7 linked regions of the Homo sapiens genome follow. The protein of the gene in region 6 purifies or fractionates together with the protein of the main gene of each other region. This does not show direct contact. Each region holds a gene or a part of one and is shown on either strand. Other genes may lie near its edges. The genes, in order: HAUS5, FAR1, SLC27A4, NUP210, ASPM, STK32C and IQSEC1.

The links.
Region 1: the proteins of STK32C (region 6) and HAUS5 purify together in Homo sapiens (affinity purification with mass spectrometry; one large-scale study listed by BioGRID and IntAct). This does not show direct contact.
Region 2: the proteins of STK32C (region 6) and FAR1 purify together in Homo sapiens (affinity purification with mass spectrometry; one large-scale study listed by BioGRID and IntAct). This does not show direct contact.
Region 3: the proteins of STK32C (region 6) and SLC27A4 purify together in Homo sapiens (affinity purification with mass spectrometry; one large-scale study listed by BioGRID and IntAct). This does not show direct contact.
Region 4: the proteins of STK32C (region 6) and NUP210 purify together in Homo sapiens (affinity purification with mass spectrometry; one large-scale study listed by BioGRID and IntAct). This does not show direct contact.
Region 5: the proteins of STK32C (region 6) and ASPM purify together in Homo sapiens (affinity purification with mass spectrometry; one large-scale study listed by BioGRID and IntAct). This does not show direct contact.
Region 7: the proteins of STK32C (region 6) and IQSEC1 purify together in Homo sapiens (affinity purification with mass spectrometry; one large-scale study listed by BioGRID and IntAct). This does not show direct contact.

The regions. Positions count from the first base shown.
Region 1 is NC_000019.10:35,615,500-35,619,532, reverse strand, and holds part of HAUS5 (HAUS augmin-like complex subunit 5), read right to left. Parts: intron 2,410-4,033; coding exon 2,340-2,409; intron 2,247-2,339; coding exon 2,164-2,246; intron 1,679-2,163; coding exon 1,621-1,678; intron 1,463-1,620; coding exon 1,338-1,462; intron 1,132-1,337; coding exon 1,068-1,131; intron 965-1,067; coding exon 834-964; intron 647-833; coding exon 484-646; intron 110-483; coding exon 29-109; intron 1-28.
Region 2 is NC_000011.10:13,720,313-13,724,345, reverse strand, and holds part of FAR1 (fatty acyl-CoA reductase 1), read right to left. Parts: exon of another isoform or gene 3,652-4,033; intron 2,617-3,651; coding exon 2,487-2,616; intron 1-2,486. UniProt on the Homo sapiens protein: Catalyzes the reduction of saturated and unsaturated C16 or C18 fatty acyl-CoA to fatty alcohols. It plays an essential role in the production of ether lipids/plasmalogens which synthesis requires fatty alcohols.
Region 3 is NC_000009.12:128,350,511-128,354,543, reverse strand, and holds part of SLC27A4 (long-chain fatty acid transport protein 4), read right to left. Parts: coding exon 3,969-4,033; intron 1,907-3,968; coding exon 1,797-1,906; intron 1,520-1,796; coding exon 1,310-1,519; intron 1,130-1,309; coding exon 1,003-1,129; intron 1-1,002. UniProt on the Homo sapiens protein: Mediates the levels of long-chain fatty acids (LCFA) in the cell by facilitating their transport across cell membranes. Appears to be the principal fatty acid transporter in small intestinal enterocytes.
Region 4 is NC_000003.12:13,322,482-13,326,514, forward strand, and holds part of NUP210 (nuclear pore membrane glycoprotein 210 precursor), read right to left. Parts: intron 3,451-4,033; coding exon 3,314-3,450; intron 952-3,313; coding exon 828-951; intron 1-827. UniProt on the Homo sapiens protein: Nucleoporin essential for nuclear pore assembly and fusion, nuclear pore spacing, as well as structural integrity.
Region 5 is NC_000001.11:197,104,944-197,108,976, forward strand, and holds part of ASPM (abnormal spindle-like microcephaly-associated protein), read right to left. Parts: intron 243-4,033; coding exon 1-242. UniProt on the Homo sapiens protein: Involved in mitotic spindle regulation and coordination of mitotic processes.
Region 6 is NC_000010.11:132,224,349-132,228,381, forward strand, and holds part of STK32C (serine/threonine-protein kinase 32C), read right to left. Parts: intron 3,842-4,033; coding exon of another isoform or gene 3,781-3,841; coding exon 3,629-3,780; intron 2,621-3,628; coding exon 2,447-2,620; intron 1,437-2,446; coding exon 1,399-1,436; intron 1,269-1,398; coding exon 1,179-1,268; intron 989-1,178; coding exon 885-988; intron 176-884; coding exon 59-175; intron 1-58.
Region 7 is NC_000003.12:12,896,208-12,899,684, forward strand, and holds the end of IQSEC1 (IQ motif and SEC7 domain-containing protein 1), read right to left. Parts: 3' UTR 3,228-3,477; coding exon of another isoform or gene 3,183-3,227; 3' UTR 836-3,182; downstream 1-835. UniProt on the Homo sapiens protein: Guanine nucleotide exchange factor for ARF1 and ARF6. Guanine nucleotide exchange factor activity is enhanced by lipid binding. Accelerates GTP binding by ARFs of all three classes.

The sequences.
Region 1 (4,033 bases), on a different chromosome or scaffold from region 6:
CCAGACCTCACCCCAACTCCCATCTCACCTCCCCCGGGCTCCGGCACAGGCGGGTCTTGCTGGCCGAGTTTCCCTTGATGAGCAGGCGGACCTGTTCCTGGGTCTCCTCCTGAGGAACCAGGATACCCTGAGACCCACTCCTCCCAGCTCCCAGCCTCAGTGTGCCTCTCTGCTTAGGTCCTGCTTCTGCCTGGGAGTCTCACCTGGGCTCTTGCCTAGGAGGCCCAGTTCTTAATTTTTAAGTGACAGCATTCTTTTTTTTTAAGTGATAGCATCTTGCTCTGTCACCCAGGCTGGAGTGCAGTGGTGTGATCATACCTCACTTCAGCCTTGAACTCCTGGGCTCAGATCCTCCCACCTCAGCCTCCCAAAGTGCTGGAACCACAGGCATGTGCTACCACACAGGGCTCAGGCCCAGTTCTTAGCCATAGTTTTCAAGCCTCCCCTCTGGCCCTCCACAAGGCCCTGGGCCTAGCCTCTCACCACCAGCTGGCGCCAGTGCAGGATCCGCTGCTGTTTGGCCTGTAGCTCCCTCAGCAGGAGCTGCCGATGCCCAGCTGCATCCTGCAGCTCCTGGCTCTGATCGTGCAGGGCCTTGAGCTCCGTCCACAGGCAACAGCGCCGAAGCCCCAGTATCAGCACCTGCCTGCAGGGCAAGTGGAGGAGAGCAAAGGAGAGAAGGGTGACTGAGCCACACAAGGGACCATAAACCAGGGAGAGACACTGCAGGGAGAGGAGGCAGAGATAGGAGCCACAGAGGCTGAAAAAGTCCAATGGGCTGAGACACTCAGAAGCGAGATGGCCTAGAGACCTCTTCTCGGAGAGCCCCCCACCTCTCACTGGATCCCAGGACGCGTCTCTCCACCTCCTCCACCAGGCCCTGGAGGCGCTGGGTCAAGACTTGCCGCTCCTTCAGGAGGGTGCTCCGCTGGGAGACCAGCACACCCACAGTCCGCCAGCCCTCCTGCAAGCGGGGTACAGAATCAGGGTACACCCAGGGCATGATCCATGGGTGAGGGGATTAAGGAAGTCTTGGAATGTGGTGGGGAGGCGAGCCCTGGGGTCACCTGGATGAGATGAACCATGGACGGCAGGGTCTGGCTGGAGTCTGACTGGTCCGGGGCCTGGGGTCTGGGGTGGGGGAAGAGCTGCTGAGGGAGCCGTGCTGCGGCCTTGCCTTGGTACTCGAGGGTGGACAGTATCAGTCCTGCCACCCCACCAGGCAGTGGGTTTCAGTTCTACCCCATCAGCAGGTGGCTGGGCCAGGGGTCCTGAGGCTGTCCCAGCTCACCCACTCACATGGCCTTCCCCAACTGTGAGAATACCCTGCCCCACACCTGGATATCTCTGTGTCGCCAAGCCCATCCCCACTGCACAGGGACCGAATCTCTGCCTCCCGCTCTGCAGCCAGGTGCTCCAAGGCAGCCAGGACGTGGCCTGGGGGGTGGTTTGTCAGCAGCGTCTAGGGGGAGGGAGGGTGAAGTCAGGGCAGGATCGGGGCAGGGCTGTGAGCTGAGACCCCATGGGAATAGGGCTGTCATCAAGAGTTAGGTCCTGGCACCCTAAGTTTTGATCAAGGAGCGGGAGGGTGTGGCTTTCCTGAGAGCCCTGCCCTCTCACCTCCACTGAGCTCAGCCACTGCTGGTACGAAGTGCCAAAGTGGTCATCATGAGGGGTTCTGTGGGGTTGGGTAAGCGGACAGAGAACGTTACAAGACACGTCAATTATCCTCTAGTTATCACCACCACCCTATAAGGTAGGGGCTGTCATCTTCCCTATGCCTGTTAGACTTGAGTTCCCCAATTATACCAACCTGCTGGCTTTGGGGCCTTTACATGGGTTGTTCATCTGGGACACTCTCTGGACCCTTCACCCCAGCTAAGCCTCCTCACCAGAGAACCTCTCCCCTCCCTGCCTTCTTAGCTGGGAAAGGCACTGCCTCTGGGTGCCCAGAGCCTCTCAGGCCTCCTCACTCCCGCAACAGCCCTGACCACCTGGCTGTCACTGTTTGTGATGAGAGACTGTCTCCTTCTATTCCCAGCCTGGAAGTCCCCTTCTACAGAACGTAGCCCAGAAGCTCAGTGTCTGAGGAATTAATAAATAAGAGACCCCCACTTAAAACCCAGGGTCTTTACAGGGTCTCTGGGGGCTAGGGACACTCACGGGAGGCTGCCCCTCTTGGCCTGGGGAAGCAGGAGGTTCTGCAGGAACTGGGCCCGGAGGGTGCAGGCTGTTCGGACATCACGCTAGGGAGAAGAGGAGGAAGGGACCTGAGGGGGACCCTAGCATCTGCCTGACTCCAGGCTCCCTGCCCCTTCTCCCATGACCAGGACTCTTACCAGGACCACGGGCTCCAGGCCCAGAGCTGCCGACGTGAGGGATCCAAAGGTCACATCTACTTTGGCTTTCCTGGAGGGAGAAGTGCAGCTGGGGCTGGGGTCCCTGGGAGAACAGATGTCTGTGCCCCATCTCCTCTCACTGCCAGCAAGGCCGGTCAGAGGAATCACTAAGCCTAGATCTCGGGAGCCATCTCCAGATTAGGCCACTGTCACCTCCCAGCTGGAATATTGCATTAGCCTCCCCACTGCTTTTGCTCCACGAGACTGTTTGCCACCCAGAAGTCAGTGATTCTGTTAAAACTGTAGGAAGATCATGTCCCTGCTCAGATCTGTCCAAAATAATGTGATGTTTCCCCAGCGCATTCAGAATAACAATGGGCCCAGCGTGGTGGCTCATGCCTGTACCCCAGCGCTTTGGGAGGCTGAGGTAGGTGGATCACTTGAGGTCAGGAGTTCAAGGCCAGCCTGGACAACATGGTGAAACCCCGTCTCTACTAAAAATACAAAAATTAGTCGAGCACAGTGGCATGCGCCTATAATCCCAGCTACTGGGGAGGCTGAGGCAGGAGAATCGCTTGAACCCCAGAGGCAGAGGTTGCAGTGAGCCAAGATCATGCCACTGCACTCCAGCCTGGGCAACAGAGCCAGACTCTGTCTCAAAAAAACAAAACAAAACAAAACAAAAAAACCAAACCCAGAATAACAATGGTTAACAGGCACTTCTCTAAGCACTTCACATGATTTATTCCACCTAACGATCATGCCTACCCTATAAGCTTGGTATTAATATTATCCCCATTCCACAGATCTTAGAATCTGAGGCACATAGAAAGAAGTTAAATACCTTGCCCAAGGTCACCCAATTTTTTTTTTTTTAAACAGAGTTTTGCTCTTGTCACCCAGGCTGGAGTGCAGTGGTGCAATCCAGGCTCACTGCAACCTCCTTTTCCTGGGTTCAAGTGATTCTCCTGCCTCAGCTTCCTGAGTAGCTGGGACTACAGGCACGTGCCACCACACTCGACTAATTTTTGTATTTTTTAGTAGGGACGGGGTTTCACTATGTTGGCCAGGCTGGTTTCGAACTCCTGACCTCAAGTAATCCGCCTGCCTCGGCCTCCCAAAGTGCTGGGATTACAGGTGTGAGCCACCATGCCCAGCCTTAGGTCACCCAATTTTAAGTGGCCAAGCCAGGGCATGAACCAGTGTCAGGGTAAAATCGCAACACATCATCCACAGTTCTCTGTCCACTCCTTCGACCTCACCTCCTCAGGTTCTCGGTCTTGCCTGAGAAACTTGAGCTGACATTGGCCTCCGGGCTGCTCTTCCTGCATGCTGAGCACACCACCTCTGCTCTTGCTATTCCTTCTCCACAGAAATTCCTCTTCCAACTCAATGTCCCCTCCTCAGAGGCCTTCGCTGACCACCCTCGCTAGGGCAGCATCTCCCTCTCCCTTCTATGATAGGCTTTTCTTCACAGCACTCATCTCTACCAGAAATGATAGGGTCTGTTTGGTTCCTACTTTACTATCTGTCTTCTCTGTGTCACAGCATAAGCTCCAGGAGGGCAGGGACATGTTCTCTGTTTGTGGCTGTTTCCCCAGGGCTGGTGTTCTAGGTATACAGGTGGTATCATTCTAGGCACTGAAAATACAGGTGACTGAGATGACAAAACCTCCTGGCCTCATGGACATTCC
Region 2 (4,033 bases), on a different chromosome or scaffold from region 6:
TCGAACTCCTGAGCTCAAGTTATCCCAGCACTGGCCTCCCAAAGTGCTGGGATTACAGGTGTGAGCCACCACGCCCGGCCCCTACTGTCTATTTAAGGCCTACATTAATCTGAGTTGTGCTAAAAACCTAATCAGATATTTTAAAGGGGCCCTGGCTTATAAATGCCAGCTAGCTAATTAACTAGGCTACTGGTAGAAGCAAAGGCAAATCCTTATCAGAAAACTGCAATTTCAATCCCGGCTTCAAAAAAATTCTCACAGAAATCCTCAAAGAATATAAATTTATAGTCAAACAAATATTTTTTAAAAAAATTAGGTGCCATGGGTGAGACCTAGCTCAAGTAATAGATGGCAGAATCAGATGCTGCAAATCATCTGCAAGTTTAAATTATCAGAAGCAGAATGAAAAACAATTATATTTAATATGTTTCAAGAAAAAATTCTAGAGACTGTTTAAGAAACATTTATAAGATCTGAAAAATTATACTTTCTAAAACTGAAAATAAAACAATAAAACTCTAAATTCAATTGGATAGTTTAGACACAGCTGGCAGACTGTCACAGAATCTTAAATTATCTAGAGTTTAGCCCAGAAACACTGAGATACAAAATATGAAATTAACGTTAAAAGATTTGGAGAACAGAATAATCTAACATACACTAGGAATTTTGGAAGACGATATAAGAATAGTGAAGAGGCAATATTTGAAGAAACACTGGCTAAGTATTTCTCTGAATTGCTTAAAGACACCAAACCTCAGATTCAGAAAGCCCAATGCAATCTAGGTAAATTTTTCAAAATTACACCCACTATCATAGTGATACTGCCAAGCGGCAAACATAAAGAGAAAATGGAAGACGAGCCAGGAATAACATATCACCTATAAAGGAAGAGCCAACTACCGACTTTTCAACAGCAAAAATGTAAGACAGAATATAAATAAAAAAGTTTTTTTTTGGGGTTTTTTTTTTTTTTTTTTTTTGAGAGACTCTCACTCTATTGTTCAAGCTGGAGTGCAATGACGTGATCACATCTCACTGCAGCCTTGACCTCCCGGGCTCAACTGATCCTCCCACCTCAGCCTCCTGAGTAGCTAGGACTACAGGCACATGTCACCATGCCTGTCTGATTTTTTCTTATTTTTGTGGAGATGGGTCTCGCTACATTGCCCAGGCTGGTCTTGAACTCCTGGCCTCGAGCCATTCTTCCACCTCAGCCTCCAAAGTATTGGGATACAGGCATGAGCTACTATGACCAGCAAAAAAGTTCTTTAACGTGCTGAAATCATGTTCCAAAACCAAGGGTGAAACAACACACATATCAGACAATCAAAAACTCAGAATTCACTACAAAACAGATTCCCAAGTAAAACATATTCTAGGTATGCTGAATATATTTCAGGCAGAAAGAAGATCATAAGGAGAAAATCTGAAAGCACAGATATTGGTATACATATATACATATTTTATATATATATATATATATAGAGAGAGAGAGAGAGGGAGAAATCTAAATAAAAACTAAATGAACAAAAGAGTATCTCAACATGGGGTTTAAATAGAGAACTGTGCCGGGTGTGATGGCTCACGCCTGTAATCCCAGCACTTGGGGAGGCTGAGGTGGGCAGATCACCTGAGGTCAGGAGTTCCAGACCAGCAGCTTGGCTAACATGGTGAAACCCCGTCTCTACTAAAAATACAAAAATTAGCTGGGTGTGGTGGTATGTGCCTGTAATCCCAGCTACTTGGGAGGCTGAGGCAGGAGAATCGCTTGAACCCGGGAGGCAGAGGTTGCAGTGAGCCAAGATTGTGCCATTGCACTCCAGCCTGGGCACAGAACGAAACTCTATCTCAAAAAAAAAGAAAAAGAAAAAAAAAATTAGAGAACTGAAGTAATGTATTAATACAACCATTTTAAGTGAGTGGGAGTGGTAATCACAACTAAAACATTTTAAGGTTCTAAATATTATTATTATTAAGAAGGAGGCTATAAATATTGCTTAACTTAGTCTGTGTTAGATATACATGTTAAAACATCTAGAGTAAGCTCAAAAAGAACATACACAAAGAATTTAAGTTCCAAAGTAACAAAGGGCAAAATGTGGAATAACAAAAAGTAAAAGAGTTTATAAAAAACAATTTCTTAGAGAAGCTTTTTCTCAAAACTCAAGAGAAAACAAAGTGTTTGAAAGAAAAACACATAAAGATAAAATTCTCTCTGAAACCAACATTAAGGGAAAAAAAGAATCAACATTTCAATCATGCTTTGAAAATACCTTTGCCACTCTAAAATACTTACACTAGAAATGTTAAGATACAGCAATTTTATTTCACCACTAACAATTATGACTAAAGCTTTATGAGAGACTATAAATAATGGCTTACTTGTTGCATAATAGCTGTGGAAAATATTTCTCAGGTTGCTAATAGTTCTGTAATTAGTATGCTACTTATTTTCTAATATAAAACAGAAAATACTTGCTTGCCTTTTTATCTTCAGGGTTTAGTTGATTCATTAACATATTGACATTCTCAGTATTCCAAACCCAAGAATTACTTGTGAAATATTCAAGAAACACCATAGCTTTGTGAAGACGAGTTATTGTTTTCATCATCCTGTATTGTAAGAAAAATGGACAGATTCATATTTTGTATAGATTAGGAAAAATCCTATCACCACCCAGGGTGCAAGTTTCCCCCTATAATATAGACATTAGTATTAAAATTATAACATTTAATCATTAAGTGTACCAAATCAGCAGGGAATAAGACTATTTCTGCATCTTGGATGAACAATTTATAAATCCAAAAGGAAAACAAATTTTTTTTGAAAGCAGCAGCAAATGCATTTAATACCACCTAAACAGAGTTCTGCTGATATACAGAATTAATTCTCAAAGGGTATACAATACTCTTAAATTTTCTACATAAAATACTAAGCAAATGAATGGATTCAATTAATATTTCCTTGCTTTCTATTCCTTAAACTACATTTTAATTCACAGCTGCATTTGCTAAGATTTCCTGTGAATTAATAACATACTGTGTTATATTTATAATTCCAACTCTTCAGCACTGCTGAAGCAAACAATACAGAAATATTCGTTTGCCACATAGTCAACTCTATTCATTTAAAAAAACAAAACAACTTTTCTTTAACAATGATTGGCACCACTCTTGATCATCTGGATGTGCTGTGAAATCAATGACTCATGCTGAAAACTATCTGAAATAGATATCCACTCACCTCTCCATACCCCACCAATACTCATCCTTACAGAAATAAAGGAGTGTGACACTCTTTTTAAAGTGTGTCTTTAAAGAAAGACTGTGATTCTTTGTTTTTAAAAGTACAAGGAGCTTTAATCTTTAAATCTGTCATTTTATATATCATGGCTCACTGTAAGTCATTGATATCATAACACTAACTTGAGCAGTAACATCTATACAATAATATTTATTATAAGTAGGGAAAGGGAAGAAAGAACTTTCTGAAACAAAACAAACACCAAAAAAATCCCCACTTCTGTGAACAGAAAAAGAATTTTTGGAGAAGTACTTTTTAAAGATTTCATTTATATTATAATAACGATTAGGATTATATGTATCATGTAGTTTAGACAGTCTCAAAATTAGGGGTTTTAGAAATGGGAGGGGCATGGAGGGAAATTACATTAGAAATAAGGAGAAAAAAATCAAAAAAGTATCATTAGCTAAGCACTTCTGATAACACAATTCAATACATTTAGAAATAAACTCTGAATCCAGAATACTGGAAGAAAATGAAGCAATATAAACTATGTAAAAAAAAACTATATTTCATCCAATAAAGTAACTTCAAAATAAAATCTCAAACACAAAACGAATTATCAAGCATCTAAGGCAATTTCTGGACAGGGATAGTTCTGTAGATAAAAAGCATCTGGGGGAAAAACACATGCTGCTCTTAGAAAAGATTAGGTGATTATTTTTTTCTAAACAAAAAGATACAACAAGTTTGTCACTACATCAATATATACTATCACGCCAGTTT
Region 3 (4,033 bases), on a different chromosome or scaffold from region 6:
AAACTGATGGGAGGATGAACATAAGTCAGGCTCCTTGGGGACAGCCTAACAAAGCCAGCGCCCCAAGCCTCTGCTCCATGCCGGGACCCACTCAGAGTTTTATGTTCTTTATGAAACATAATCCTCAGGCCAGCCCCATGTGTGGGTGCTGCCATGGGCACAGTTTGTAGATAAGGGGACTTAGGCACAGTGAGGCTGAATACTCGCCCATGACACAGAGCTAAGGAGCTGAGCCAGAATAAATCTCAAGCAGCCTGGACTCAGGGTCATTTGGAGTCAATATGAAAATGAATGAATGAGGGCCGGGCATGGTGGCTCACATCTGTAATACCAACATTTTGGGAGGCCGAGGTGGATGGATCACTTGAAGTCAGGAGTTCGAGACCAACCTGGACAACATGGTGAAACCCCATCTCTATTGAAAATAGAAAAACTAGCCGGGCATGGTGGGGTTTGCCTGTAATTCCAGCTACTCAGGAGGGTGAGAAAAGAGAATTGCTTGGCCGGGCGCGGTGGCTCACGCCTGTAATCCCAGCACTTTGGGAGGCCGAGGCGGGCGGATCACGAGGTCAGGAGATCGAGACCATCCCGGCTAAAACGGTGAAACCCCGTCTCTACTAAAAATACAAAAAATTAGCCGGGCGTAGTGGCGGGCGCCTGTAGTCCCAGCTACTTGGGAGGCTGAGGCAGGAGAATGGCGTGAACCCGGGAGGCGGAGCTTGCAGTGAGCCGAGATCCCGCCACTGCACTCCAGCCTGGGCGACAGAGCGAGACTCCGTCTCAAATAAAAAAAAAAAAAAGAATGAATGAATGGACTGATGTACAGATAGAATGGCGAATGAATGAATGAATGGATGGATACACAAATAAATGAGTAACTTGTAACCCTAAGAGCAGAGATAACTGATGGCCACTGGTCAGAACAAGGCTCCCCATCCACACGCGCCTGGCCTCCTTCCTTCCCAGGCCAACCCCTCCCTCTCTGACCCCGAAGTGGCAGACCTGGCTGGCAGGGAATGCAGACGCCGTCGGGCCCCCGGATCAGCTCCATGGTGTCCTCGTTGACACGTACCAACCGGATGGGGTACACGAAGGACAGGATGCGGCTATTGAAACCACAGGCCCCCACCTGCGAAGGCCAAGACTTGGGCCTGGGCTCTCTCACCATGGGCCCAAAACTGGACAATGAGGGGGAAGTGGGACTCCAGCACCCACACTCTCACGCTCGAACTCTGCCCTCCCCTCTGCATCCAGTGCCTTCTGTGGGCCATCCCTGCAGCAGCCTCGCCCATCCCCAACCTGGCCGCACCTGGCTGTCGAAGTTGCCCAGGCTACAGTTGCACTCTGTGGCCCCGTAGAACTCAGCCACCTGGGGTATGTGGAAGCGGCTGGAAAAGTTGGTCCAGATGGACTGCCGGAGGCCATTGCCTAGTGCCATGCGAACCTGGTGCTGGTTTTCTGCCTCCCGCGGTGGCTGGTTCAGGAGGTAGCGGCACAGTTCACCAATGTACTGCACAATCTGGGGGTGAACTTGGTGTGATTCGAGGCTCCAGAGGCTGCCCTCACTACACTAGGATTCTCCTGATCCCTCAAGCCCCTACTCTCCCCAGGGGCTGGCCATGCCATCCTTTCCCTCTCCGGGTCTCAGCCTTCCCATCTGAACAATGGGAACTTTGCCACAAATGAGCCCTTTGGAATGACTGGCCACCTCAGCTATAAGACAGATGCCCCGGAGTGTAGTTGGGAAGAGGGTAACTAGGGGAAAGGGACAGCTCACCCTTCCCGCTCTCGCTCACCGTGCAGTTGTACTTGATACAATCGTCCCAGAACCGGGAGGCTGAGAACTTCTTCCGAATCACCACCGTCATGCCATGCAGCAGGCACTGGCCGATTCCCACGATGTTTCCTGGAGGCAGAGGGATGGCCCCTGAGGGTCAGCGAGATGAAGACCCTCCCCGGCCCCAAATCAGTGATACTGCCATCCAGCCAGGCAGGCTTGTGCTGCCCTGCAGGCTTCTGCACCTCACATCTGCCTGCCTTGGGTGACCTCCTCCAAGAAGCCTCCCCGGCTTCCATCACCAGGCTCTTCCCTGGTGCTGCCCTCTTGCTCCCTGCCTCTCTCCTACACTCACATATACACCCGACTCTAAGCACCTGGAGGGCAGGAGCTATATTTATTCAAGCTGTCTTCCCTTAAGCCCCTACAAACAAGCAGCAATGCCATGCATATCTGTGGAAACAAACTGAAATGAGACAGGCCCAGATGCCCCGTGGGACACTGCCACACACACTGTGAGGCTGGTGTGCTCATCCTTTTTTCAATTTAAAACAACTTTTTTTTTTTTTTTTGAGACGGAGTCTCGCTCTGTCGCCCAGCCTGGAGTACAGTGATGCCATCTCGGCTCACTGCAAGCTCCGCCTTCCGGGTTCATGCCATTCTCCTGCATCATCCTCCCGAGTAGCTGGGACTACAGGCGCCCGCCACCACGCCCGGCTAATTTTTTTTTTTTTTTGTATTTTTAGTAGAGATGGGGTTTCATCGTGTTAGCCAGGATGGTCTTGATCTCCTGACCTCGTGATCCGCCCGCCTCGGCCTCCCAAAGTGTTGGGATTACAGGCGTGAGCCACCACACCTGGCCTAAAACAAAATTTTTTTTAGAGACAGGTCTCACCATGTTGCCCAGGCTGGCCTTAAACTCCCAGGCTCAAGTGATTCTCCTGTCTCAGCCTTCCCAGTAGCTGAGACCATAGGCATGTGCACCACGCCTGGCTAATCCTGTTTATTTTTATTTTTAAATTAAATTAAATTAATTTATTTATTTATTTTGAGACAGAGTCTTGCCCTGTCACCCAGGCTGATGTGCAATGGCACGATCTAGGCTCACTGCAACCTTTGCCTCCTGGGTTCAAACCATTCTCCTGCCTCAGCCTCCTGGGTAGCTGGGATTACAGGCACCCGCCACCAAGCCCAGCTACTTTTTGTACTTTTAGTAGAGACAGGGTTTCACCATGTTAACCAGGCTGGTCTCGAACTCCTGACCTCGTGATCCACTCACCTCCCAAAGTGTTGGGATTACAGGCGTGAGCCACTGCGCCCAGCCTATTTTTATTTTTTTTGAGACAGTGTCTCGCTCTGTTGCCCAGGCTGGAGTGCAGTGGCGTGATCTCAGCTCACTGCAACCTTTGCCTCCCAGGTTCAAGCAATTCTCATGCCTCAGCCTCACAGGTAGCTGGGATTACAGGCACACGCCACCAGACCCAGCTAATTTTTTTTTTTTTTGAGACAGTGTCTCGCTCTGTTGCCCAGGCTGGAATGCAGTGGCGTGATCTCAGCTCACTGCAACCTTTGCCTCCCAGGTTCAAGCAATTCTCGTGCCTCAGCCTCACAGATAGCTGGGACTACAGGCACACGCCACCACACCCAGATAATTTCTTTCTTTTTTTTTTTTCCGAGACAGAGTCTTGTACTGTTGCCCAGGCTGGAGTGCAGTGGCACGATCTTGGCTCACTGCAAGCTCCACCTCCCGGGTTCACGCCATTCTCCTGCCTCACCCTCCCGAGTAGCTGGGCCTACAGGCATGAGCCACCACACCTGGCTAATTTTTTGTACTTTTAGTAGAGACGGGGTTTCACCGTGTTAGCCAGGATGGTCTCGAACTCCTGGCCTCAAGTGATCCGCCCACCTTGGCCTCTCAAAGTGCTGGGATTACAGGTGTGAGCCACCACACCCAGCCTAATTTTTGTATTTTTAGTAGAGATGGGGTTTTGCCATGTTGGCCAGGCTGGTCTCGAACTCCTGGCCTCAAGTGATCCGCCCACCTTGGCCTCCCAAAGTGCTGGGATTACAGGTGTGAGTCACTGCGCCTGGCCCAAAGCTGTGTGTTTCTACTGCAGCACACTGCCTGATGGGGGTGGGGTTCCTAGAGACCTGGCAGGTGCTGGAGGCTGTGTGACAGCCCTAGAGTTACCTGCTGAGTGGTAGAGGGGGAGGCAGTCATAGACGATGTCGTTGGGCCGCATGCGGAATCCATAG
Region 4 (4,033 bases), on a different chromosome or scaffold from region 6:
CTTTGAGATGCAGCCAGGATTGGTAAAGCCAAGGACATATCATATGGAAGAGGATGCCATCGGCATCACAGGGAGCTTCAAGTCAGAATTTCAGCATTTGTTCCAGACCTTGCATCCAGGGGCACGGCAGACGGGCTAGGCCCACTAATGCCTGTCTTCTGTCCCTGTCAGCAGGGGAAACGGCAATTTACTTCTGCACATTCAGAGGGCACTAGTTCTCCACTAACATCTGAGCAGCATTTAGGCAACGGCACAGTGCTGTCCACTTGCGCTGAGGAAGGAGCAGAGGCTGCCATGATGGAACAGAGCTGCCTCGTTAATCAGGACGAGAAGGGCGGTGCTTCACTCTGCCAGTGAGGTGGTTTAAGAAAACAGCCCTGTTGACTTACTTATTTCTGGCAGCTGCTGTTCAGGGCTGTCATGGGCAGGGGATGGGGTTCAACATTCTATGCATGACCTGGGAGAGGTCATTACAAAAATTAAAACCAGTGACGAGTCCTGCTAATTCATTAGTTTCTGGGATTCACGGTGGGAAATTGTGGCTTTCTTTGCTAGGGTGCCCTCGGGCTGAAGTCACATTTCCAGTGCAGAACAGGCACCTTCTGGGAGCTGGGCTCCATTATGAAGATTCCTTTCACTGGCTCAGCTTTTGGAGGACTCCAATTTCAGAAACGCTGGAAGGAGTGGATGAGTGGGGGCTAAATGCCCTCTCTGGAGTTGGTGTGAGTGTGAATAGGAGAAGCAGATAAACTCCATCCAGAGGACACAGGAAGCCACCTCCCCGCTCCCAGGTACTCTGAAGACAGCCCAAGCCCCTCATTAAGTACCTCTCAGGTTAGAGCTTCTGTCTCCCACGGCAACAATCACTTTGGAGGCTGTAGCCTCCTGGAAGCTGGTCTGGATGGGGTGGAGGTGACGGGCCATGATCCTCTGAGGGACGCTGACCACCACCTAGAGAGGGAGCCAAGGAAGCTTCATGGAGCGCCGCCTGTGTCCCGGTCCATGCTGGGCGTTTCCACAACCTCACCCTGCAGTCTGTGACATAGTGTCACCCGTTTCACAGGTGGCAACACTGAGGCTCAAAGCCTAAACGCCTTGCTAGAATGTGGCAGAGAGGGGGTTTGAGCCCAGTCTGGTCAGACTTCACAGCCCAGTTCTCCCATTGAACAAGCTGCTTCCCCCAGCAGCTGACTGGACGCTGAGCAGCGGGCCTGAATTCATTAATCGATCTGGGTGGGCTGAGGATTTTGGCTGTTCGGACAGCCATGATCACTTCTCTGTAGTACAGCACCACACCCCACCCAGAATCCAGTCTGCCCAGATTTTCCCAGCTGTTCCCCCTGTGCCCATCCTGTACCTGGCCACACCCAAACAGCCCCAGGCTGGAGACCTCCCTGCACTCCCTTGGCTAGGACACCCTCCCATCTTCTCTGCAGAGCCCAGCCTCATCCACCCTTCAGGCCCAAGGCCACTTCCTGCAGCTGAAGGCCCCCCTCCCTCTCTCAGCAGGCACCAGCGCTCCCTGCCTCCAGGAGATCTGATTTCTACCAGTAGGTGAACTTCAGAGCAGGGATGCGATTGAAGCCCCTGCAGCTCCCAGGGATGTGGCCCATGCAGAGCTGTAGGTGACCAGGCATCACTGTCAAACTCACGGTGCCTCCGCTCAGGGCTTACCACCATCCACCTCCAGGGACTGACAGAGGCTGTGTCCCACTCTCTAGCCTGGGACCCCCCAACGCTGGCCCTCCTCTCCCCTTCCTCCCTGTCCACCCTCAGAGAGTGCCCAAGGCTTCCTGGCCCCTCTCCTGCCTGCACTCCTGGAGTGCCCGTGCACTCCCACCCACTCCCAGGGCTTCAGAGGCCACTTCTGGGCTGAGGCCCCCACCCTGTCCAGCCTTCCTCACAGTGCTCCTGCCGCACCCACCCAGGTGTGCCTCCTGCCTCACCTGGGAGAGCTGTGACATCTCTAGCTCCCCGGCCCAGGCTCCTCACCTCCCTGCAGGCCTACCTACCTCTGTGTGCCCCTCTCAGCAAAGGACCAGTAGCAGCCTGGTCATCCCAAGCCCTTCCTCCCCTCCAGCCTCACTTCTGGATGCTCATGGAGCTCTGATGTGCCTCCCTCCCTCCCGTCTCTCCCAAACCTGCCTTTAGATTCTGCCACACCCAGTGATCCCAGCTGAGGGCCTGGCCTCAGTCTCTGGCCAGTTACCCTGTAGCGACTGCTCTCTCGAGCTCCTCCAGGTGCCAGGTAACCTCTGCAAACACAGCCTTGGTCTATAGCACTGTTTAAAAAACTCCACTGAGTGTGGCATAAGCTTCTACCCCTTCACCCTGGAACAGCAGCAGCAGCAGCAGCTAATTTCTGCTGAGCACTGGCTATGAGCTGAGCACCACCCTAGGGGCTTCTGACGTGCTAACTCACTAAATCCTCACAACGCTATCATCCCCATTATACAGGCAAGAAAATCGGGACATAGCGAGACTCAATGATTGCTCAGTCATAGCCTCGCAGTGGCCAAGCTGGGATTTGACCTAGACCGTCTAGCTGTAGATGCCCCACCCTCAACCTGCACCAAACTGCCTGGAATCTGGTGCATTTTCTGATCTGATCACAAAGCCAGACCATGCTTCTCCCACACCCTCTGTTCCAGCCCCCGAGGCTCTGCCCTTGAACCCTACACACCTTTGTCCATGCCACCCCATCCCCTGACCAGAGGCTCTTTCCAGGAGAGCACAGCTGTATTGTCACAGGATGCCTCTGTCTGCAACTGGCTCGCCCAAACTGCAGAGCCGCAGCACTAAATATGCAAACAATTAGGTTAAACTGCTAGGTTCCATAAAGCACATGCTGCCTCTAAAAATGAGATGCATTTGGATCTCAGCCAGACTTGCCCCACTGATTCATTCTCAACTGGAGATGAATGGAAGAGACAGCAGGTTTTGTCGCCTCCAGACTCAAAGGGTGACTTGCACAGGGAGTCTTAGCCTTGCAGGTGACAGGGAAGCACCGGCTCCCAGGAAGTGCCCACTCCGGGGTTGCCAGACCCAAGCCCATGGGAGCTGGAATCCACCCTACAAGGCTGCCTGTCCTCATCACACCCTCTTGAACATGGGGAGACTGAAGCCTGGAAAAAAAAGGGAGCTTGTCCCCATGTCAGAGTCAGCAAGTGGCCAGTCCCAGACTCATGACTCCCAGACCCAACCCCTCAGACGGCTTTTCCCTAAAAGGAAAAGTCTTCATAATCCTCCCAGAAGGTCAGGCCCGCCTCACAGGCCACTGAGCCACATGTGCCTCCGGCTGCTTAGAGCCCACCTCCTTGTAGGTCCTCAGGTGCCCAGCGACCTCATAGTAAACCGTCACGGATCCCACGGCCCGGGCCACAGCCACACCCGTCTTGGGGTCGATGTGGAGGATGCTGTTGGCCGAGGAGCTCCAGGTTCCTGAGAGGCCTGGAGAGGAAGCACAGGTGTCAGCCCCCTTTCCATAGCTGGACACTCCAGTCAAAGCCCAGCTCACCTGGATGACAGGCCAGCTTCCTCGCTGGCTGCCGCTACCCCCATGGGGGCTCACTCAGCAGCCTCAGGAGACAGCCACGCTGCCTGCCCCAGTGCCGGTCATGCTCCTGACTCCAGCCACCTGGAGCCATCAGCTCTCCTACCCTGCTGCACCCGCCCTCTACAGGGCTGTGGCCCCTAGCACCTGCTCTCCCTGACCCACAACTCCCTGCCTGGAATCTCCTGACCATCCTGGCATGAAGCTTTAGCTGACTCCTGCCCAGGAATGGTCTGGTGCTGCTGCCAGGCCCTGCCCTCTGTAGCTCCTTCCCCAAAGCACAGCCCCTCCCCATCCCTTCGTTGCCTTATCAATTCCTTTTTAGCAACAGACAGCAGGTGTGAGGCTCAGAGCTTTCACCACATACACATCTGAGTTAAAAGCCAATCACATTATATAATAAGTACAATTAAAGGACTCAACCATAATCTATTTATGGCAAATTATATTTGTTTTTCCTTAAAGGTAGTATTTCATCTC
Region 5 (4,033 bases), on a different chromosome or scaffold from region 6:
TGCTTCCATTTTCTGAACATAGATTGGATTATAAGAGTTGATGATTTTAGCATTTCATATCTTTGTTGATCTTGTTTTCTTCTTAAATAAGCACGCCAATGCCTCTGAATTGTAACTGTAGCCCAAAGATATCGTTTATAAGATGTAACAGCAATTATCATTCTTATCCTAGATTGCAGGATGATTGAATAATATTTCAATTTCAGAAATCTTTGTCTAGTGGAATATCTTCTCCAATATCCCTGGAAAAGGTAAGAAAGGACACAAAGTAAAATAGGCATAGCTTTCTATATTTAACACTTTTCAAAATACTAATTTTTCTAACATTCTGCTTAAAAATAAACACATTGAATTAGAAAACTAATTATTTTTGTGAGATATTTGTCTCTTTTGTTTTTAGTTTAGGTTTTACATTGATATACCTGTAGCCAATTCAGAAATCCATCCAAATCTTCATTATATTTAAATACTGCATTTGTATGCCAGAATCATAAGAAACATAAGCAAGTTTATGTTATATTACAAGCAAAAGAGTCAAAATAAAACTATAGTAATATTCTTTGCTATCTATTGATTCTAAGTAATTTCCTATGAGTTTATTTCTGGGCCTTATATGGTCCCCTTACTTCAATGTTTCTAAGCTACCTTATAATGACTAGAAACTGTTTATGTGAAGGATCCTGCATTATCACATTACAGGCCTGATAATATAAATATAGGAATTTAGGAATAAATAAACCAGATCACTCTCAGAGTCATTATTTTCATTAAGAATAAAATTACTTCCTTTTCCCAAATTTAGGAACTATAAATACATGGCTTAAAAGTAGAATTCTAGAAAGACTTGAGAAATGACAAAACTTTTGTCTTTTGAAAAGCCATGGTTACAATGGCTAATCCAACTGTATGTTGGCTCAACAAAAAGAGCTACAAACTCTCAAGCTAATTCCAGTTGCTGGTATCTAAAATGGTCCCAGGCTAATGGTAGTCAAGTTCTAGATGTTTTAGCAATAAGACCATTCCTTTGTACAAACACTCCAAACATTGCTGAGATTGGGGGTGGCATGGAGAGGTTGTTCTCTACTACATCTTACTTTTTCTCGCATATAAGTAGAGTAATATAGGGACTGGGTACCTCGCTCTCCTATAGCAGTATCGAGTTTGCTTGCAGCTATCACTGGCCTAAGCATACCTATCCATGGGTGAGGAAGCTTAAGGAGAACATGCACATCCCTTTTCCTGACCCTTTTCCTGTAAGTTTTATTGTCTTCTTCCTCTACTAAATGTTACCTGAGGTTTTGTTCATACTCTTCAACCTGACAGGAAATGATTGTATACATTTTATCTTACCAAGAAGAGATGCACAAGTTGTCAAAATATTTATCCAACAACAGTCAAACTTATTTGTACAAAAGTATTTTGAAAACAATAAACTCTACATAAAGTATTAACTTGCTTTAAATTAGGGCAAAGTAAAGCAGTAATAGTACTCAGAAATTCAGATATTATTTTTCTTTTGAGCACCCACCCCCAACAGATATTTCTATGTAAAATCCTCAAACTAAGAAATTGAAGAATCAGTGTGTACAGATTGTTTTATACTTTAATAATCACTTTTTCTACATTACTATTACTACTCCATTACTGAAATGTTAATCAATGTTGATATATAACATGGAAGATATGATCATCTCCTCTCCTAACAGTTTTGCTTATTACAATAGCAATTTTTTCACCATTGTCATACAATTCTTAAAAATAAATAGCTTTTACTAAGGAACACATTACATACAATTTTCTCACTTAATTCTCACAAAAATACATTAAGTTGGCATTGTTTCTTCACTTAAAGAAAGGAACACTAATGTTACAAAACTTTTTGCAAAGTCCCACAGCAAATAAAAATAATTGATCTTAGGATCTACATTATTACACCAAAATCAAATGTTCTTTCTACTCTACCACAGATATCTGCAGCAGGTTGAGTGCATTAACAGCCCAATTCTTCATCTCTCCCAGTAACTATAACCTGTGCCATACTTTGTTTTTCCTCATACAAAAGAGTTTCTCTGCTTGAGATATGGGCGCAGTCATGGAAAGAATGCAGTAGAGCAGTGTAACTCAATCTTCAGTTTTCTGGTCAGATGATGAAACAAGGCAGCCCTGAGGAACTAGAGGGTACCAGGGAGATGGTAGAGACTGGGGAGCTCAGGGAAGCAATCTGATAATGTTGTTTATGAATTTCTAGGTTCACCACCAAGTTGTGCACAATGTGAATCTAGACCACAGTAGGCTATAGACTTTAAGAATTGAATAAGATACAGATCACAATCTAGATCCCAGACTGGCTACTGGGTGTTACATAATGAAACTGATATGATACAAATATCACTCACTGTAAAGGCTTTCAAAAAGGAACTGTCACTGAAGCTACGCTCATGGAAGGCTGATGAGAACAGGTGGCCTGAACCCAATCAAGTGAATTAGCTGCTAAAACTAAAATATCAACATTCTCCATAGGATTTAAACAAAACATAGAGTCTGATAACATAACATTAAATTTCCAGAATGCAATTAAAAATTATTTGACATACAACATAACAGAAAAATTTCAACTCTCACAAGAAAAGATAATCAATAGACACCAATGATGAGATGACAAAGATACTGGAATTGGAATTAACTGACAACGACTTTAGAGCAGATAAAGTAAAAATGCTACAACAAGTTGAAACTAATGGAAAGATAAAAAGTCTCAGTAAAGACATCAAAGATATGAGTAAGAACCAAGTGAGAATAGTAGAACCGAAAAACACACTAACCAAAATAAAAATTCACTGGTATGGCACAATAGCAGAATGGAGATGACAGCCAAGATGGCAAATATCTCAGCTTTGTGGGCCAATTCTGTTGCAACAAGTCAATTATGCTATTGTAGTACAAAAGCAGCTCCCAAATAATACATAAACAAATAGTTGTGACCATATTCTAAAAAACTCTATTTATAAAAACACATGGTAGGCCAAATTTGGCCTGCAGATATACCAACCTCTGACCATGATAGACCATATTGTGGATCATAAACTAAAGGTTATCAAATAGGAAAGAATTGAAATCACAGTATGTGCTCTGGTCATAATGGAATTGAAGAAAAAGTCACTAACAGAAAAATAATAGGAAAATCTCCAAACATTTAGAAAGTAAATAACATATTCTGAAACTTTAAATCATAGAAAAAGCCTCAAGAGAAATTAAAAACTATTTGAACTGAATGAAAAAAAAATACCATATCAAAATTTGTAGTATGTGGCTAAACCTGTATTTAGAAGAAAATTTATACCATTAATGTGTTACATTAAAAGTGGAAGGACTCAAATCAGTTACTCAAGATTATACTTAAAGAAACTATAGACAGAAAAGCAAAATTAATCAAAACAAGAAATAATAAAGACTGAGCAGAGACCAATGAAGCCAAAGGGTTGTCCACTGAAAAGATCAAGAGAGTTAAAACTCTAGCAAGACTGACAAAGAAGAAAAGAGAAGATACAAATTATCAATATCAGGAATGAAAAAGGGAATATCACTACAGACTACCCAGGCATCAAAAGGATATTAAAGATATACTTTGTATATACATATGGTAAATTCAACAACTTGGATGAAATGGACCAATTCTTCGAAAATTAGAAACTGCCAAAACTCATCAAAGATAAATAGTCCTATACAAATTTAAAAAACAGAATCTGGCAAGGTGTAGTAGCTCACACCTGTATTCCTAGCACTTTAGGAGGCCAAGGCAGGAGGATGACTAGAGCCCAGGAGTTCGAGACCAGCCTGGGGAATTTAGTGAGACCCTATCTCCACAAAAAATACAAAAATTAGTTGAGTGTGGTGGTACATGCCTGTAGTCTCAGCTACTTGGGAGGCTGAGGTGGGATGATGGCTTGAGCCTAGGAGATTGAGGCTGCAGTGAGCTGTGTTTGCACCACTGTACTCTAGCCTGGGCGACAGAGCAAGACCCTGTCTCCAAAAA
Region 6 (4,033 bases):
AAGTGAGGGAGGGAGGTGGGTGCTCGGAGGGTGAGGAGGCTCAGGGATGGGGGCTCACCTTCCGCAGCAAGGCCACCATCTCCTTGGACCACGTGGGGACATACTGGACGCTCACGGTGCTGAACAGCTGCACCAGGGACTCCACGGCGTTGCTGGAGTGGATGTCATAGGGCCTCTGGAGACAGGGAGGCAGTGCTGGGCAGGTCCTCCTGGCCCCCAGGACACCCAGAACAATGCCAGACACAGGTGCCATCGCCCTGAGAGGACCCCCTCCCCCCACCCCAAGTGCAGGCACAGCTCTGAGCACAGCCTGGCCTCCACCTGCCGCGGAGGAGCCTGGGTGAGATAAAGCTTACGCCTGGGTCCTGCGCCCTGGCTGCTGCGCCCATCTGGCTGGGATCCCAGGGGGCCTGGGTCCAGGTAGATCAGCCCCAGAGGGCCAGGAGGGAGCTGGCTTCCTCAGAGGTGGGGTCCTGTGCAGGGCTGAGGGGTACGGTCCACAAGAGGACCCCCAGCCTCCCGGTCTCCAGGACTGGCCTCGCCGTGGCCACAAGGGTAAGAGCACAGGGCCCCAAAAGAAACTTTTTGTGGAAAGTTCCGAGGCAGCACCCCTGCTGGCCAGTTCTCAGCCTTGTCCACCCCCACAGAGGCTGGCCTGCAGGCACCAGCAGCGGCCCCGGGAAACCACAGTGAGTCTGTCCTTCCTCCTCCTGCTCAGGCATTCCATCACCAACTACACACTTCGATAAAAGCGTGACTCCTCAGACACAGTGGAGACATCCCTGCGCACCTGGACACTGGGGCAGCCACCCCCTCCCCAGCACTGGTGGGGGCAGAGAGCAGGGGCCTGGCAGCCAAGCCCAGGGGCTGCAGGGGGTCCATACCCATCCTCGCAGCAGCTCATAGGCCATCACCCCCACCGACCACCAGTCCACCTCGAAGGAGTAGCCGGTCCCGCCGTTGACAAAAGAGTGGAAGATCTCCGGAGCTTTCCGACAGAAAGAAGGAAAAACAGCTGCCACGGGGTCACAGCCCGGACCCGTGGGCACAGGGCCGGCACCTTGAGGCCACATCCCGAGACCAGGCTGCCTCCAGGGTGGGACAGAGAAGCCACCGAGGTCTTGTCCTTCCCACCTGGAGGAAGCCAGCTCCCATCTGGAACCCCAGCTCGGGCTCACCCATGTACGGCTTGGTGCCTGCTAATGCCGTCGCCCGCTCCCCGTCCTTGATGATGGTGGCAATGTTGAAGTCGGTCAGGTGTGCATGTCCTGTGCAGAGAGGGGTCAGGTGTGGCTGTCCCAGGACCAGAGATGCATCCTTGCGTGCAGGATCCTCCTCCCCTGACAGGCCCATCCCTGCCACCACCCACCTGGGCTGCCCACACCCAACCCCACACACCTCTCTCATCCAGGAGAATGTTGTCAGGCTTGACATCTCTAGAAAGAGCAGAAAGTGGGAAGGTGAGTTGGGAATCTGCCCTGTTTCTGCCCTGGAATCTCTGTCACAATCCCTGGAGTCCCCAGGACATCCCACCAACCCACTCGAGGCAGAGGCCTGGGAGCTTGACTTGGTCCTTGGATGATGCTAGGACCTCACACCCCTGCGTGGGGGCAGAGGCGATGAAGTCAGCCACTTCGTTCCCTGTGGCATCTGGGCAGCAGCACACACCTGGCACCAGATGCTGGGAGGGGGCCTGGAGCCCCAGAGGACGAGAGCAATTGCTGGCAGGGTCTGCCCTCCCCCTCCAAGACTCGGCCTCTAGGAGACCAAGCCACCTCGGCTCTTGCTTTGTCCCAACTTTTCCAGGTACACAGCCAGTGCTCAGTGACTGGTGCCTAGGTCATAATCAGACATCCGAGTCCCCAAGAGCAGAAATGCAAACACCAGTCCATTCGACTTTAAAATATACCTCACAGATATTTTCATTTTGTTCCATTGCTGCGGAATTTCAGCCTAATTTCTGCTTCCCAATTTCACTTCCTTCATAATCTGCTTCCTATTTTCTTTTTTTAAATTTTATTTTCAGAGCCATCACACCAGCTCTGCTTCCTAATTTCATCTGCTTTAAGCTAATGTTAAAATTAGTTTGGATTCCCTGGGATGTGGTGGATGGGCAAACAGGAGCCTTCAGTTAAATGGACCAGGTGAAGGCCACCTGCTGTGACCCAGCCTGGTGGTCTGTCCACCAGGGCTAACAGCCCACTGTGCCCAGTCTCAGCTGGGGCTGCTGGGACGAGGTCCCCCCAGATGGACACCAGGCACACAGCTATGGGGCTGACCTGGTCGGCACAGGTGCCACAGCTGGGGGCAGGCACTCAGGCAAGGGTGGGGCAGAGGAGCTAGACCCGCTCTGAGGGAGTACGGCCGCCGTGCCGGCAGCCTGACCTAAGGCTGCTTCAGCCCCGCCCACCTCAGCAGGTACCTGCGCCGTCTGCCACGCACACACCTGTGGATGATGTGCTGGCCGCGCAGGTAGTCCAGAGCCAGTGCCATCTCGCAGATGTACAGCCTCACCGTGTCCTCGGAGAACTGCACGTTCTGCTGCAGGTGGTAGCGCAGGTCCCCGCCCAGTAGCAGGTCCACGACCATGAACATGTCCTCCTCGTCCTGGAAGGAGTACCTGTGGGCACCGATGGAAGGCCTGTTGTGCGCACAGCTGGGGAGCCAGTCATGGCTGCTCCCACAGCTGACACACTCCCCCTAAGGACCACAGCCCCACCCCAGCATCAGCCACCAGGCATTCCCAGGAGGAGGGGCCTGCCCAAGGCACTGATTGCACCCCAGCCCAGAGCAGCTCTGAGCCCAGATCCTGAGGAAAGACACACCACCCTGTGCTGGAGGTGGCCCAGCTGGGGCCAGAGGCACCTGGGAGTGGCAAATGCAGAGCAGAGCTACAGTGCCAGCTCCGGGTGCTTCAGGCTGCCCGGCCTCCTCTTCGGTAAAATGGGGATACAGACATTTGCCTCGGAGGGTTGTTACAGAAAATGAGGCCGTGTAGGTACCACTCTTGACAGTGTTGGGCAAAGAGCTGGCATTTAACAACCAGCATCCATGGTGTTGACGATGGCAGTGATGGTGGTGGTGGTGACGGTGATGGTGAGGATGACGGTAGTGAGGACTGAGGGTGGTGGTGATGGTGATAACAGTGATTGTGGTCGTGGTGGTGGTGGTAATGGTGGTGACAATAGTGATTGTGTTGATTATAGTGATGACGGTGATGAGAGTGATGATGGTTGCAGTGGTGATGGTGGTGGTGATGGCGATGATGGTGGTGATGGTGATGGTGATGACAGTGGTGAGTTTTTCAGTCCCTAAACTCTCTCCCTCTCTGACTAGTGCCAGAGACTCCATGGGAGCACATCTCCATTGTAGGGAAGCCCTGGTCTTCCGGCAGGCTCAGAAGAGACACTGCATTAACCAACCCCAGCATGTCATGGCCACCTGGGCCACTGCCAGGCCTGGGGCACAGGAAGGGGGATAGATGAGGAGGGCTAGAGAGGGCCTGTGGGTGGCAGAGGCATCTCCGAGGCACGAGGGCCAAGGAGCACCAAGGGCAGGAGAGGATAGCCAGTGCCTTCCCGGCTTCAGGACGGTAAGTCTTTCTGCAGCGAGGCCATGGCAGGCTCACCAGAGGTTCACCAGGAAGACGTGCTCGATCTCCTGCAGGATCTCCAGCTCCCGGAAGACGTTGCGGACCTCGTCGCGCTCGATGCACTGCTGCTTGTTCATGTACTTCATGGCGTACATCTTCTCCGTGTCCCGCTTCTGCACAATGCACACCTGGAGGGCACAGGGCTGTTCGGCAGGACGCCTGAGGACGCCTGGGGACACGTGGGGACACCTGGAAATGCATGGGGATGCCTGGGGACGCATCGTCAGGACACAAGGGGACACCTGGGGACGCGCCGCAGCCCCTCTGCCTCCTAGACGCGGCAGGTGCATTCCTCTCTGCCACATATGGTAACATATTTGCTCTGGGGATTAAGATGTGGGTGTTTTGGAGGCCGTGATTCTGCCCCCCAGAGGTTCCTGT
Region 7 (3,477 bases), on a different chromosome or scaffold from region 6:
CTGGGGCTGTCACTGGACACACACAGGCGGATCATGCAGCTCACAATCTCAGGGCAGGGGGAGACAAACACAATCCCCAGAAGATCACCGCCTCGGAGCCCTGGCCTAGCTCACCTACCTCCAGCAGCTCCTGGGCTGTAGATCTGCGTAGTAAAAATCAAACCCTGAGGCAGAACCGGGTATTTCAGGGAATTTTTGTACCCAGCTTCTCTTGAAGGGCCCCTGAATAGTCTGTAAAAGGGATGGACGCCCAGTTGCAGAAACAGGCATTGTGCAAGGCACTTGTGTGTGTGCACTGAAATGGCTGGTTTCCTGGTTTCAGTCTAGATGAGCCAGTAGTGGCTATGAATGAGACTGGAAGAGGGGGCCCCTGTGAGAACATCTTTCAATCAGAATGTGCTGTACGGAGGGAGGGCCAGAGTTCATTTTGGTCACCAAAATTAACTTTTTTTTGTTTGGTTTTCCACTAGTTAGATCTGCCAGTTCCTTTTATCCCATGCACTGAAAGTTTAAAGTGGTGTTCTCAGGAATTATGTTTGGCCAGGAAAGGAGAAATCGCAGAAGCCAATTACATCCTCACAGGCCCCTTCCTTCCAGGAGAATGACTTTACCATCTTGGCTTTTGTACATGATATGAGCCAACATGGAAACGCAGGCTGCTCTGAACTCCTGTCATCATCCATCTTTACTGGGGACTGGGCCACTGGGTATTTTTTTCCCTAAGTCATAATCAGTGTACCTCAACGCTTAATAGAATTCATCCCCTCTAACTCCATGAAAGGACCATCACTTGTTGAAAGTTGCTAGAAATTATAAATACCTTTGAAACCTTCTATTGGTTGTGATGTGTCCCTTTATTTTAAATTTTGTATCAGTGTCCTCAGTCAGTCCAATGTCTTCAAGGAAAGTGAGTGCCCAGAGTCACAACAAGTAATGGGGAAACTCATCAGCTGGAGATCTGGGTCTGGCCAACAGGGCAACTTCTGGACTTTTCAGAAAAAGTGAGAATCCGAGAGTTTCAAAGGATTTATTTGATTTCCCCACATGATCACAACCATGGTTTTACATTGATAGAGTCTGTTGCCACTGACAAACAGAATGCAGATGAAAACAAACGCACTCCTTTCCTCTCAAAGGTACACAGTGGGGGTGCCAGGCTTCTTGTGAGGGAGGTGTCCCTTGAAGTCTCTGAACAGTCTGGGGATTCAGGACCTGATTCTAATTGCTTAAAACAACTCGGAGGCAAAAGATATTTTCCAAGAGGAGATGCATGCTGTGTGCAGTCTCGATGTGACTGCACACAGAAGGGCGATGCAGATGCATCTGAATGGAGGGCAGGCCTCCTCCCTCTTGTCCTGTGCTCAGCACCCCCACCTCACCCTGCTCAGTGTTGCAATGCTGCCTTGACTATTGTTGTTACATAAAATACAAATGTACTCGTTTCTCAGGCAGGAAGGGTGATGATATTTTACAAGGAGAACTGTAAGACTGTGCGTGCTTACCTGCGGGCACAGAGCTTCCCGTGGCGCTGAGTCAACACCCAGCATCAGCTGTGAACATCTGCTGTCTTTTCAGCTCATTAAGAAAAACAAGAGGCTCCTGCTGCATGCAGTGTGTGAGGGAAAGATCACTGCACTGGGTGCTGAAGACATTTTTAAGCAAGATGTGCACAGCATATTAGGATGAACTTTATTTTTACATTGTTGTACAATTCATTGGTAAACTTAAAAAAATACAAATACATGATTTGATTGTTGTCCCAGAAAAGACTTTTGTCACATTGCCAGCTGTTTCCCTCAGCGTCTCCTGCTCCTGTCAGCAATTCTGTATGTAACTGCAGTAATTTGTGTGACTTGAGAAAGGTGTGCCAAGGGCGTCCTCACAGTGAGAAGGGACCAGGCAGACATCCTGGGGCCCTCGGCCTCCTCCTGCCTCCCCTCCCAGGGGATGTGATGACAGGACCCCGAAGCTGTGGCTCTGACAGGTGGGATCTCTAAAGGGGACAGTCCCATGAAAGACACACGGGGACACCAGCTCACTGGGAGCTTTTGCTTTCCCAAACAAGATGTGGGCAGCATGACTCCAGCCTCTGGAACCCAACAATGTATCTTCCACAAACTTTTGATAAGCTTGCAAATAAAACAGAATGAAACCTCACTAGCCTGAAGGAACACACTGAGTGCGGCGGGAAACCCCGGGAAGGGCTCAGTGGGTTCCAGCAGTTCCTTACGCGAGGCCCTGCTGCCCAGCACAGCTCCAGGACACACCGAGGACAGTGCCACAGGCTGGCAGCCCGAGGCTGTGGAGCTTGCAGGATGGCGATGGAGAGGGAGAGTTTCCTGAAAGCCCCTCCTGGGGTTTTCTGTCTGTTCCTATTCATTACTGCTACCCTTCAGAAAGAGCAATTCTGTGCCAAACGGCCTGAATCTTTTCTGGAACAACCTAAAGGTTACAGTTAGACTCTCCTCCCAGCACAGAAGAGGGTGAGAAAAGCTGACATACTCAATATGTAATCGCTTTACTTCAACGATGTGTTTACAGTCACGCCAATACATTTTGCAAACGCACAACACGCAGAGCGCAGCCTCACAGCTGACGCCAGATGACATGCAGCAGTTTAACGCTTCCAGGTCGGAACAGCCTCCTCAAAATTGCGAGACAGAGTGCTTTGGGGAGCCTGGCTTTTAAAAAAGACCCGAGAATTGATGAGTCGGAGACACCAGGGCGCTTCCCTGACAGCCCAGCCTGGACCCAATCACACGGTCCCATGCTGTTTCTTTCTGAGCAGACACCAAAGAAATGCCACGCCAATGGGAGGACACAGGTGGGCGGGTTAAAGTCACATTTTTAAAAAGGCTAAACTCTAGATTGCTGTATTTGCTCTCTCTGGAGATTAACAAAGTGCTTGGTTTGCAGATTTGCTGGTACGGTGATCTCAATGATATGACCGAGGGTGGGAGGGATGTGAGGAGGGAAATCGGCAAAACCCTGGCCAGCCAGCCAGCCAAGGTGACACACAGCCAGAGGGGGCTCCCCTCTCCTCCTGCCGTCCGGCCACGGCTCACCACGCTGTCCACTGGGAACGCGGCCCCGCGGCCCGCAGAGTCAGGCGTGAGCTTCGCCCTTTCTGAAAGGGCCTCCGCCTGGGCAGGCGCCGGGGGGCAGTCCTCGGGTCCCATGGCTTAGGAGCACAGCACTGACGGCTGCAGTGGCTCGAAAGGCTGAAACTACAAAGTATGGCCCGTGGGTGACTCGGGCACAGACCTGCCGCGTGCAGGTCTGGCCCTGGGGAGCGCATGGTGTCACCACAACACAGAAGCGACAAGAGCACAGCTGAGAGTCATGTGATGCCCTGGCAGCTCACTGGACCATGGGAAGGCAGCGGGGGCTCCGCCGGGCACTCGTCGGCTGGGGTCACACGGGCCACGGTGAGGACACAGGGGTTCTGCTAGCACATGGCTACATGGAATTACGGTG